Regions from separate parts of the Homo sapiens genome. Here region 1 is linked to region 2. Evidence: fine-mapped expression QTL. A gene starts in region 2. The other region holds a variant in brackets. All regions are shown on one strand. Distances are from middle to middle. Region 1 overlaps SLC22A4 (solute carrier family 22 member 4). Region 2 holds the start of SLC22A5 (solute carrier family 22 member 5).

What was found.
Region 1: its variant is fine-mapped to the expression of SLC22A5 in gastroesophageal junction (GTEx, PIP above 0.99). The same link has a PIP of 0.9 or more in aorta.

The regions. Positions count from the first base shown.
Region 1 is chr5:132,302,532-132,307,912 of GRCh38, reverse strand. All of the region lies in intron 1 of SLC22A4 (solute carrier family 22 member 4), which reads right to left. Among named protein-coding and RNA genes, the nearest start is that of SLC22A4, 11 kb to the right of the region's middle. The variant T/C (reference allele first, on the strand shown) is at 3,070.
Region 2 is chr5:132,367,114-132,372,494 of GRCh38, reverse strand. SLC22A5 (solute carrier family 22 member 5) reads right to left here and starts at 2,785. Exons shown (of 10, transcript NM_003060.4): 1 at 2,130-2,785. The coding sequence starts at 2,522. It overlaps MIR3936HG (MIR3936 host gene), which reads left to right and starts at 2,579. Exons shown (of 8, transcript NR_110997.1): 1 at 2,579-2,651. RefSeq lists a silencer at 2,583-2,902.

The DNA.
Region 1 (5,381 bases), 65 kb after region 2:
GAACTAACTCTCCAAGTAGCCAAAGTCTGGCAGTTTTAGTTTTTACCAGAGCTATAAAGGACCATAAAGATAAGTGAACCCCGTCTGACCTGCACGGAACTGAGAACGCTGGAAGGTAGCCTGGTGTTCAGCAAAGAACACAGGCTTTCTCGGGGTCTGCAACTTTGGACTGTGTGATGTTGGGCAATCCATTCACCTCTATTAGCCTGCTTCTTCACCTTCAAAAAGATGACAATAATACCTGCTCCTAGGTTTGTTGTGTGCATTGGATGGGAAATATCAGTGGAGCGTCTGACACATTACAGGCCTCATTAAATGGTAGTTCCCTTTCTACCAGGCTCATACTAGTAGAGCATTTTATTTGTCCTGAGCAAAATCATGACTTGGAACACATGGACGAATAAGCAAAGCAGGTTACACTTAAATCTGACTAAGAGAAAGAAATTCTAAGAAATAAAAATTATTCCAGTCCATTACTAAAAGCTAGAAAAGCTCTTATAAAAGGGATTTGATAAATGGAATTCAATCCCAGAGATGACTGTGAGTGAAAAATTAGCAATGGTCCTTTTAAGAATAAAAGATTGATTTCTATAGTATCCTCTCATAGTTATCCTTTATTCTAGAGAAAAGTAAGAAGTAGTAGTTAATAATGGACTATACATCCACCCCAGTTCTATCTTTGTCACTTGATTGTGACTTAAAGCTGGGAATTCCTTGACAATATGAAAAAACAAAACAAAGAAAAACAAAAACAAACATGGCTAGTTAATTACTTTTTTGTAACAACTTTATTGAGATATGATTTATACACCATAACATTTACTCTTTTAAAGTATACAAATCAATCATTTTTAGTATATTCACAGACTTCAGCAACCATCAGCAATGATCTGATTTTAGAATTTTCATCACCCTTGAAAGAAAACCCATACCTGTTAGCAGTCACTCCTCATTCGCTACTTCCTCTAGCCCCTGGAAACCACTAATCTACTTTCTGTCTCTATGAATTTGCCTATTCTGGACATTTCATATAAATGGAATCATACAATATATAGTGTTTTATGACTGGCTTCTTATACTTAGCTCCTTTTCTAAGTCCATCCATGTCATTGTGCAGTGTATCAGCACTTCATTACTTTTTATGGTTTAATAATATGCCATGGTTTGGGCTGGGTGCGGTGGGTCACACCTGTAATCCCAGCACTTTGGGAGGCCGAGGCGGGTGGGTCACCTGAGGTCAGGAGTTCAAGACCAGCCTGGGTAACATGGTGAAACCCTGTCTCTACTAAAAATGCAAAAATTAGCTGGGCACGGTGGCACGTGCCTGTAATCCCAGCTACTTGGGAGACTGAGGCAGGAGAGTTGCTTGAGCCTGGAGGTGGAGGTTGCAGTGAGCTGAGATCACACCACTGCACTCCAGCCTGGGCAACAAAGTGAGACTCCATCTCAACAACAACAACAACAACAACTATATATATATATATATATATATATATATATATATATATATATATATATATATATATATTTCACGGTTTGGGTCTACCACGTTTTCAATGATCTGTTCATCAGTTGATAAGTAGTTGGGTTGTTTCCACTTTTTGGCTACTATGAATAATGCTGCTGTGAACATTCATGTACAACATTTTGTGTGTACATGTTTTCATTTCTTTGGGGTATATACATAGTAGTGAAATTGTTGGGTCATACGGTAAGTATATACTCAACCTTTTGCAGAACTCCTAATCTGCTTTCCAAAGTGGCTACACCATTTTACAATCCCAACAGCAATGAATGAGGGTTTCAATTTCTCCACATTCCTACCAGTACTTGTTATTGTGTGTCTTTAATTTTAGTCATTGTAGTGGGTGTAAAGAGGTATCTCATTGTGGTTTTGATTGCATTTCTCTAATAACTAATGTTGAACATCTTTTGCATTGAATCTATTGATCAATTTGGAGAGCACTGCCATACTAACAATAAGTCTTCTGCTCCATGAACAGAACATGGGAAGCTTTTCCACTTGTTAAGGCCTTCTGGAATTTCTTTCAATGACATTTTATAGTTTTTAAAGTATACATTTTGCAAATTTTTGGTTAAATTTATTTCTGAAGTGCCTCCTTTAATATTTCTTGTAAGACATCACTGCTAGAAACAATTCTCTCAAGTTTTGTGTATTTTTGAATTTCTTTATCTCAGTTTTGAAAGACAGTTTTGTTGGATGCATGATTCTTGGTTGACAGTTTCTTTTTTCCTTCAGCACTTAGAATATGCCACTCCACTGCCTTCTGTCCTTTATGGTTTCTAATGAGAAGTCAAACGTTGATCTTATTGGAGTTCTCTTGTATGTACCTAGTCATATATTTGCTGCTTTCAAAATTTTCCCTTCGTTTTTGTCTCTTTTTTTATTTAAGCAGTTTTACCATGATATATCAGGGTGTGGATCTCTTTGTGATCATTCTATTTGGAGTTTGTTGAGCTTCTGAAAGGTGTAGATTAATGTTTTCCACCAAATTTGGGAAGTTTTCAGTCATTATTTCTTTGAGCATTTTTTCTGCCCTTTTCTCTCTCTCTCCTCTCCTAGTAATTCTATTATGCATATATTGCTATGTTTAATGGTGTTCCCCATTTCTCTGAGACTCTATACATTTTCTTTATTCCCTTTTTCCTCTCTGTTCTTTGGATTGCATAATTTCCAATCCTCTATCTTCAAGTTTGCTGATTCTTTCTTTTGCCTGTTCAAATCTTCTGTTAAGGCCCTTGAGTTACTTTTAAATTTCAATTATTGTATACTTTTACTCCAGAAGTTCTATTCAGTTGTTTTGTTTGTTTAAGAGACAAGGTCTCTTTCTGTTGCCCAGGCTGGGGTTGAACTCCTGGGCTTAAGCAATCCTCCTACCTCAGCCTCCTGAGTAACTGGGACTATAGGCACATGCCATCATGTCTGGCTCAGCTTTTAAAAATATAAATGTAATTTTTCTCTCTTTATTGCTATTCTCTATTTGATGCAATATTGTCATCATACTTTTAAAAGCATGACTTCCTTTCATTCTTTGAACATATTTATAA[T/C]GGCTGCCTTATGCCTTAAAGTCTGTTAAAATCTGACATGTGGACCCTCTCAGGCAGTTACTGTTGCCCACGTTTTCCCCCCATGTATAGGTCATATTTTTCTGTTTCTCTGCATATCTCGTAATTTCTGGTTAAAAACTGGACATTTTAGATAATATATTGTAGAAATTAGGTACTGTCACATTCTTCCACCCCCATTTCCCTGATCTTTCTTCTTCTTCTTTTCCGAGATGAAGTCTCACTCTGTTGCCCAAGCTAGAGTACAGTGGCATGATCTCGGCTCACTGCAACCTCCACCTCCTGGGTTCCAGCAATTCTCCTGCCTCGGCCTCCTGAGTAGCTGGGATTACAGGGACCTGCCACCATGCCCAGCTAATTTTTGTATTTTTAGTAGAGATGGGGTTTCCCCACATTAGCCAGGCTGGTCTCAAACTCCCGGCCTCAGGTGATCCACCCGCCTTGGCCTCCCAAAGTGCTAGGATTACAGGCATGAGCCACCACGCCAGTCTGATCTTTCTATTAAGCTGTCTGTGTCTGCTGGTATCACACCCAGCTGTTAGCCTCACTAATTGCTAGCCAGTTGCCTCATTCATTTCAATAATGCCCTGGGGGCATATATTGTCCCACAGTCTAATCCAGTTGACGTCAAGCCTCTTTGCAGTGGTAGTTTTTGAGGCAAATCTATAAGGTTTGTTTTGACTCCAGAAGGGCTGCTCTTAGCTGTCTCTTTCTTGTTTTGTTTGTTTGTTTGTTTTCTGTTTTTTCCTGGTAAACTAGCTGCATTATGGGTTCATTTGTTGCTCTAATGGAGTTACCAGAATCCTTTTAGTTGCTTACCACTAAATTCTCCATTGTTCTTGAGAGCAATCTTAGGCTGTCCTTTCACACACTCTATTTCAAATAAAGTTCGTTCCTGTGGGGACAGCTTTAGAACTCTGTTCTTTTGGATTATCTCTCCCCGCTGGGCAAAATATCTGAGCTCCTGTTGTAGAGAGGTAGGCAGGGAAAGCGGCCCATTTATCTCAGAATGACACCCCTACTTTATGAGTCAGACACTGAGTGGAAGTGGGAGCTTGGTGTGGAATCTCTGCCGTATGAATGAGCTGGGATAAGGGCAATCAAGGCTCTAATATTCTCAACTTGTGGCACCTGGAGTAGAGTCTCTACTATATGAATAGGCGGTGGGTGGAGGATGGGAACCTATGATCCCCTGGTTGCACTCACGAGGATTTTACCTTCTGTGGTTTGGAGCTAAGAGAATACAGGGATGGGTGGGGGATGGGCATTGGTTGTCCCTCTTGGTGGGCTGCTGTAGCCCTTCCTTGGAAGCTGATGGGAGAGAGAACAGTATTTTCTTGGCCATACCCACCTAGAGTGGAACTTCCATTTTTCTTGTGCTGGGAGGAAGGGGAAGGGGAGGGCTGAAGGAGTTATGACTCAAATATCATAGACTTCACTGTTCTTGCCAAGGTATAGTCGACTTTCTTGAATAAATATATGCCCTTAGGACAACTTCCAGAGACTCTAAATGTGTGTGTGTGTGTGTGTATTTTCACCAGTTATGGCTGTTTCACTGAGGAGCTGGTCTATGGCGCTGGCGCTCCTCACACTGCTAACTTCGAAGTCTCAGAATCTTTTCATGTGCTAATTGATTTGTATTTCTTTGGCAAAACATCTATTCTCCAAAATGGGCAAATGATTTTATCCATTTTTAAATCAGGTTGTCTTTTTATTGCTGAGTTATCAGAGTTATTTTTATATTCTAGATACAAATCCTTTATCAGATATATGATTTGTCAATATTTTCTCCCATTTTGTGGGTTATCTTTTTGGCTGTTTAATTCTTCTACTCATATTTTCATTTACAAACAACTAAGCCAGAAGGCTGCTAAGCCTTAAAATGTTCTCAGTATCTTTCTTTCTTTATATTAGAAAAGCTACCACAGATGGAAAAGCCTCACTGATGAGTTCTGTGATCATTGGAGGCTAAACCAAAGCAGAAGAACCAGTGAGTGTGAGTGGGAAGATAGGGATGGGAGTGGAGGGGCTGTGGGAAGGAGAAGGGTCACTCAGGGACCTGGCTGTGCCCCTTGCATCCTGACAATGGATCCACCACAGCTCTACCAGTCTGTATTAGGGGAACATGAGCAAATGGCATCGTGTCTGTGCCAGTCACCAAGCACTGAGGGGAAGCTCTGGAAGTTGCCGCCTGAACCTGCCCTCCAGTCTTGCAAATGCTGAGCAGGAGCCACCAGCCTTGGACTGTCTGTGCTTCTTGCTAGAGCATGTGGGTCATTCCAGCCTTTCCCCAG
Region 2 (5,381 bases):
GCCCAATGTGGGATGGAGGCAGCAAAGCAGGAACAAGTGACTAGAGTAAGCCGGGGAACCCTCAGGGGTCAATGTAAAACTCCAAGAGATGCCATGTGCTTCTTCTTGCTTCACTACTTCCCTCTTCTTTAGGCAGCCCCAAGTAGAATTTGTAGGGATTCCTGTGTCATGTTCCCCTCTGTGGCCTCTGCCTGCAACCTCAGGGACAGCCTCTGCTTTCATAGTACTCACTGGCTTCCGGGAAGGTAACACACCCACCTGTGAGGCTAGGACCCAGGATTTGTGGCAACTGAAGGTTCCAATTTCCTGTGGATTCATGGGCCAGAAAGCACAGTTGGCTACCTCCAAGGAGTGCCTCTTTTGTCAAGCCATGATGCCTCTGGACACTGAAGCTATGTCACTAGCTAAGAAATCCCAGTGGGGCTCCGGTCACACTCCCACTACATATATGTGGAGAAAGCAGGTCCAAATGCTGGGGACATCAAATTTCCAAAAAGAAAAAACACACACATGCACACACACTTGGATCTCCCAGGGTAGCTCTCAGACTCCATTGAAGGGTGATGACGCCAAGAAGCAACACAGTTGGGATCTCCAGAGCCCCTGTAAGCCCCTCTGAGGCTCCAGGAGGGGAGGCTCAGCACCAACATCCAGCAGGGCTTGAAGCTGTGCCAGGGCCTGTGGCACTCTCCCTCTCTATGAACTCTCCCCTCTCTGTGAACTCCGCCGTCCTGCTGGGTGGTTTCTTGCTGCTGCACTGGGGCCTTCAGCTCACTATTATGCTGAGCTGAACACCCTAGGCTCACGGAGAGGCCTCCTCTTCTGGGAAGCCTTCTCTAACCTGCGAATTGGTCATCTGCACATTTAGTGAGCCTATCTATCAATGAGGGCTATTCACTGGCTACTTACTCAATGCTGCTGAAACTTCAGGGAGCTAGAGTGCCAGTGTCTAAAAAAGACACAAAACACATACATCATTAACATCATGTTCCTACATCCAGCTCCAACAACTGCTCCAACAGGTTCGGAGGGGACAGACAAAACCACCCAGAGGGAAAATCCAAGGGGATGAGAAATGAGAAAGGCTCCCCTACACCCTATGACCTAAGGCTGTATGCTTTAACTAAATCTGGCCGACAGCCTTGCCTCATAATACCTGAGAAAATATTCCAGGTCAACAAGTCACCCTGAACCCATCTTCAGATGAATGGATCTTAAAGAGTGACAACTGACGGCCTGGCGTGGTGGCTCACGGTTGTAATCCCAGCTTTGGAGGCAGAAGCAGGCAGATCACGAGGTCAAGAGATCGAGACCATCCTGGCCAACACGGTGAAACCCCGTCTCTACTAAAAACACAAAAATTAGCTGGGCGTCGTGGCTCACAGCTACTCGGAGACTGAGGCAGGAGAATCACTTGAGCCCGGAAGGCGAAGATTGCAGTGAGCCAAGAACGCACGACTGCGAAGGTTGCAGTGAGCCAAGAACACACGACTGCGCTCCAGCCTGGTGACAGAGGGAGACTCTGTCTCAAAAAAAAAAAAGACTGACAACTGACCATGGGAAAAGGCAAACAATTACTTACAGGGCATGACCAGATTGTCGTTTTTGGGTTGTGGACGGTAGGGGAAGGAGTAACTAGAGGAAAAAGGGAAGAGGCAGTTGTATACACATGCTTTATTTAACTTTTAAAAGTTCAGGAAAGAGAAGTATTTCTTCTCTTCTAAAAAGAAATCAAGAGACTAGAGGAAAAACGGGATAGCCCCTGGCCCAAGTCCTGGCTCTGCTACTTACCACCCCCAACCCCAACTAGAGTAAGTCCTGGACACACAGGGCCATAGAGCATCGCCCAGGGACCGCCAGGACCTTCCTGGTACCCTCTTCAAAGTGGCCATCAGGACGGGAGGCCAGACTGACCACCTGTGCAGGGAGGAGCACACTGTGGCTGGAGGTCACCTCGTGAAGCGTTCCCAAGCCACCTGGCTGGAGGGTCTCCATCGCTAGGGTGTTGACCGTTGGGGGAGGGGGAGTGACAGCGTCCAGTGCGCATCTGGGAGAGAGGAGCTCGGGTTCAAGGACCGCGACAGGTCCTCCGAGCCCTGGTCTCAGCCCCAGCAGGGGCCGGCACCCACCTCGGTCACAATGGTGGACAGGTAGACGTCCTGACTGAACTCCCAGCCATCCAGACAGCTCTCCTGCTCCAGCTGCCCCAGGTCCACGTCGCGCCCCGGCTCCAGCCCAAGCGCCGAGAAGTTGGCGATGGTGGCGAGCCGGTAGCGGCGGCAGCTGTGGGGCACCTCGCGGCCGTCCCGCAGCCGCAGTGGGACAGTGTGGTTGCGCCAGGCGCTGCTCAGGTTCGCGGCGTCCGGCACCCGGCAGCGGTGCTCCGGGGTCGCTATCAGGAACACGGAGGACAGGCCGGTGAAGCCATTGGGGATGATGCTGGCGCTGAGCAGGAAGAAGATGAGGCGCTGGAAGGGCCCCCACTCGCCCAGGAAGGCGGTCACCTCGTCGTAGTCCCGCATGCCGCCCTCAGAGGCCCACAGAGCGCGGCCTGGGGTCGGGGAACGCGGCGGGCTTTGCGCGTGCGCGCGGGGCACCCGCCGCCGACCAGGCAAGCCAGGCAGCAGGCGACCCAAGACCGTCCGCGGAGGGTAGGCTCGCGAGCTGACACCGCCGCCTTGGTCCTGCCGCGGCTGGCCTTACATAGGGCGCACGACCAGGGAAGGTTGCGGGCCTGGGCCGCAAGGCGCGCCCCGCTGGCAGGCAGAGCGGCGCCGGCGAAGGCGGAGCTGGGGCGGGACGCGAGGGCGCGGGGCGGGCCGGGAGTGCACCTGAGGCCCGGGCGGGGCCTGTCCTGGGGACCTGGCGAGGCCCGGCCTCTGCCAGCCAAGCCTGCTGGGGACGACCGAGGTAGCCCGGGCTCGGCTTAGGAAGGCAGCGGGACTCGAGGCCTTGGGGTCCGAGTCCGAACTCGCTCCTCTAGCGCCGGGCGGGGAGCGAGTGGGAGAGCGGCCGCGAAGCTCCAGTGTTGAAAACGCACCCCTCCCAGCTTTTTGCAAGGCCTACTTGGGGGCGGAGGTAAGGAGAAAGTCACTGGCCCAGGGTCTCACAGATAGTTGCTCTTGACACCGCCTAATCTTATAAGAGGGACGGGGATTATTTTGAACCTGGGACTGTTAACTACCCTAGTAGAGAGGCTGGGAGCTATGACTTTTCATTCTAGTCCAGATGCCCTTTCCACATTTTCGTCTGTAACAAGCCATTTTGTTCATGCAGATGTAAAAATTTAACTTCACGATTAACGATCCTAGCCTAGGGTTAAATATTCCCCACAGATTAGTTATTTCCGTGCAGAGTTTATTCAGAAGCTAACTGGAAAAAAAAAAAAAGCAGCGAGGTGATTCTAAAGCAGCAATGTTCCATAGGATAAGGAGCTACATTTGTTATGTTAACTTTTCTAGTAGCCATATTAATAAAATTGCCAGATTTAGCAAATAAAAATATAGGACTCCTAGTTAAATTTGAATTTCAGATATAGAATGAATAATTTTTAAATATTATGTCCCAAGCAGGAATATATAAAATAAAAATGTAACTGGTTGTCCTGTATTTTATTGGGCAATGCTGCATATTTAAAAAGTAAAAATAAAAGATGAAATTAACTTTAATGGTATATTTAATCAAGTATATCCAGAACATGATCATTTCATCATATAATCAATATAGAAATTATTGATATTTTACATTGTTATATGTAAATCATTGATCTTTTTTTCCCCTCCTCATACTAAATCTTAAGAATTCAGTGTGTTTCACAGGTTCTCAGGATTTGAAAAAAAAAAAAAAAGGAATCCAGTGTGTATTTTACAGCACATTTCAATTTGGACTAGCCACACTTTTTATTTTTTAATATTTATTTATTCATTTATTTATTGGAGACACGGTCCCACTGTGTCACCCAGGCTAGAGTGCAGTGGCACAATCATAGCTCACCGCAGCCCTGAACTCCTAAGCTTAAGTGGGCCTCCTGCCTCAGCCTGCTGAGTAGCTAGGACTACAGGCACATGCCACCGTGCCCAGCTAATTTTTTTATTTTTTTTATTTTACAGAGACAAGGCATCCCTGTGTTGCCCAGGCTGGTCTCAGACTCCTGGGTTTAAGCAATCCTCCCACCTCAGCCTCCCAAAATGCTGAATTACAGACGTGAGCCACTATGCCTGGCCAGACTCATTTTTTAAGTGCTCAGTAGCCACATGTAGCTATTGGTTATCTTATTGGACAGCACCATTCCTAAGGCCTTTAAGAATTTGGGCTGCTAAACTTAACAATGCAAGATATTCCTTTTTAAAATAGTAGTGGCTTAGTGATAGAAACAGAACTAAGTGTATATTTTTACAATATAATGTGTTGAGTAAAGAATATTTAATAGTCACTATATTATGAGTTGAAAATAAAGCTACAGAAAGGGAACCTAACCTGGCCAGCAGATTTTTAACAAGGAAATCTAAACATTTGCATAAAGCATAATAGACTTAAAAAAATTATGATAAAGATGTTATCACAGGACTTGTTTGTTTCTTTATACTTACTATTCACTATTCTTACTTCCTGAAGATGGATGGTTATACCTTCAGCAATGTACTTAAATCCTTCTAACATCTTATGTGAAGTTATAGTTCTTATCTAGAACTAACTGAAAAAGAAAGCAAAGCTTCTTGAAAATAAACTCCTTTTTTGTGTGCTAAAATATTATTTTAATGCTTCAAAAGAAATGAAAGCTTTTATGAGAAGAATGTTGACCTCTGTCCAGACCAAACAAGATGAAGAAGTCTTATTTTAACATTTGAGAAATATCAGTTGGGCATCAGATAACATTCCTGAAAGGGACTGAAAACAATGCAGTATACTACAAAAGAAGCTGCATATCCTTAGGAAGAAAAGAAACTATTTGTCATAGATGGCTTGTCCACATGCGCAAAGCAGAGAGCAACCTAAGATGGTGCCGTCCAGTTCCAGGTGCACTGTGATTACTATCTGAATGCCATTACTATTTAAATTGCATTTTTTTTTTGAGACAGGGTCTCCTTCTGTCACCCAGGCTGGAGTGCAGTGAGGTGGTCTTGGCTCACTGCAGCCTCAACCTCCTGGGCTCAAGCAATCCTCCCACCTGAGCCTTCCAAGTGCCTGGGACTACAGCCACGCGCCGCTACACCCAGCTATTTTTTTTGTATTTTTGGTAGAGACAGGGTTTTGCCATTTTGGCCAAGCTGGTCTCAAATTCCTGACCTCAAGTGATCCCCCCGTCTTGGCCTCCCAAAGTACTGGGATTATAGGTAGGAGCCACCATACCCAGCCTTAAATTTCATCTTTTAAAAGAGAAA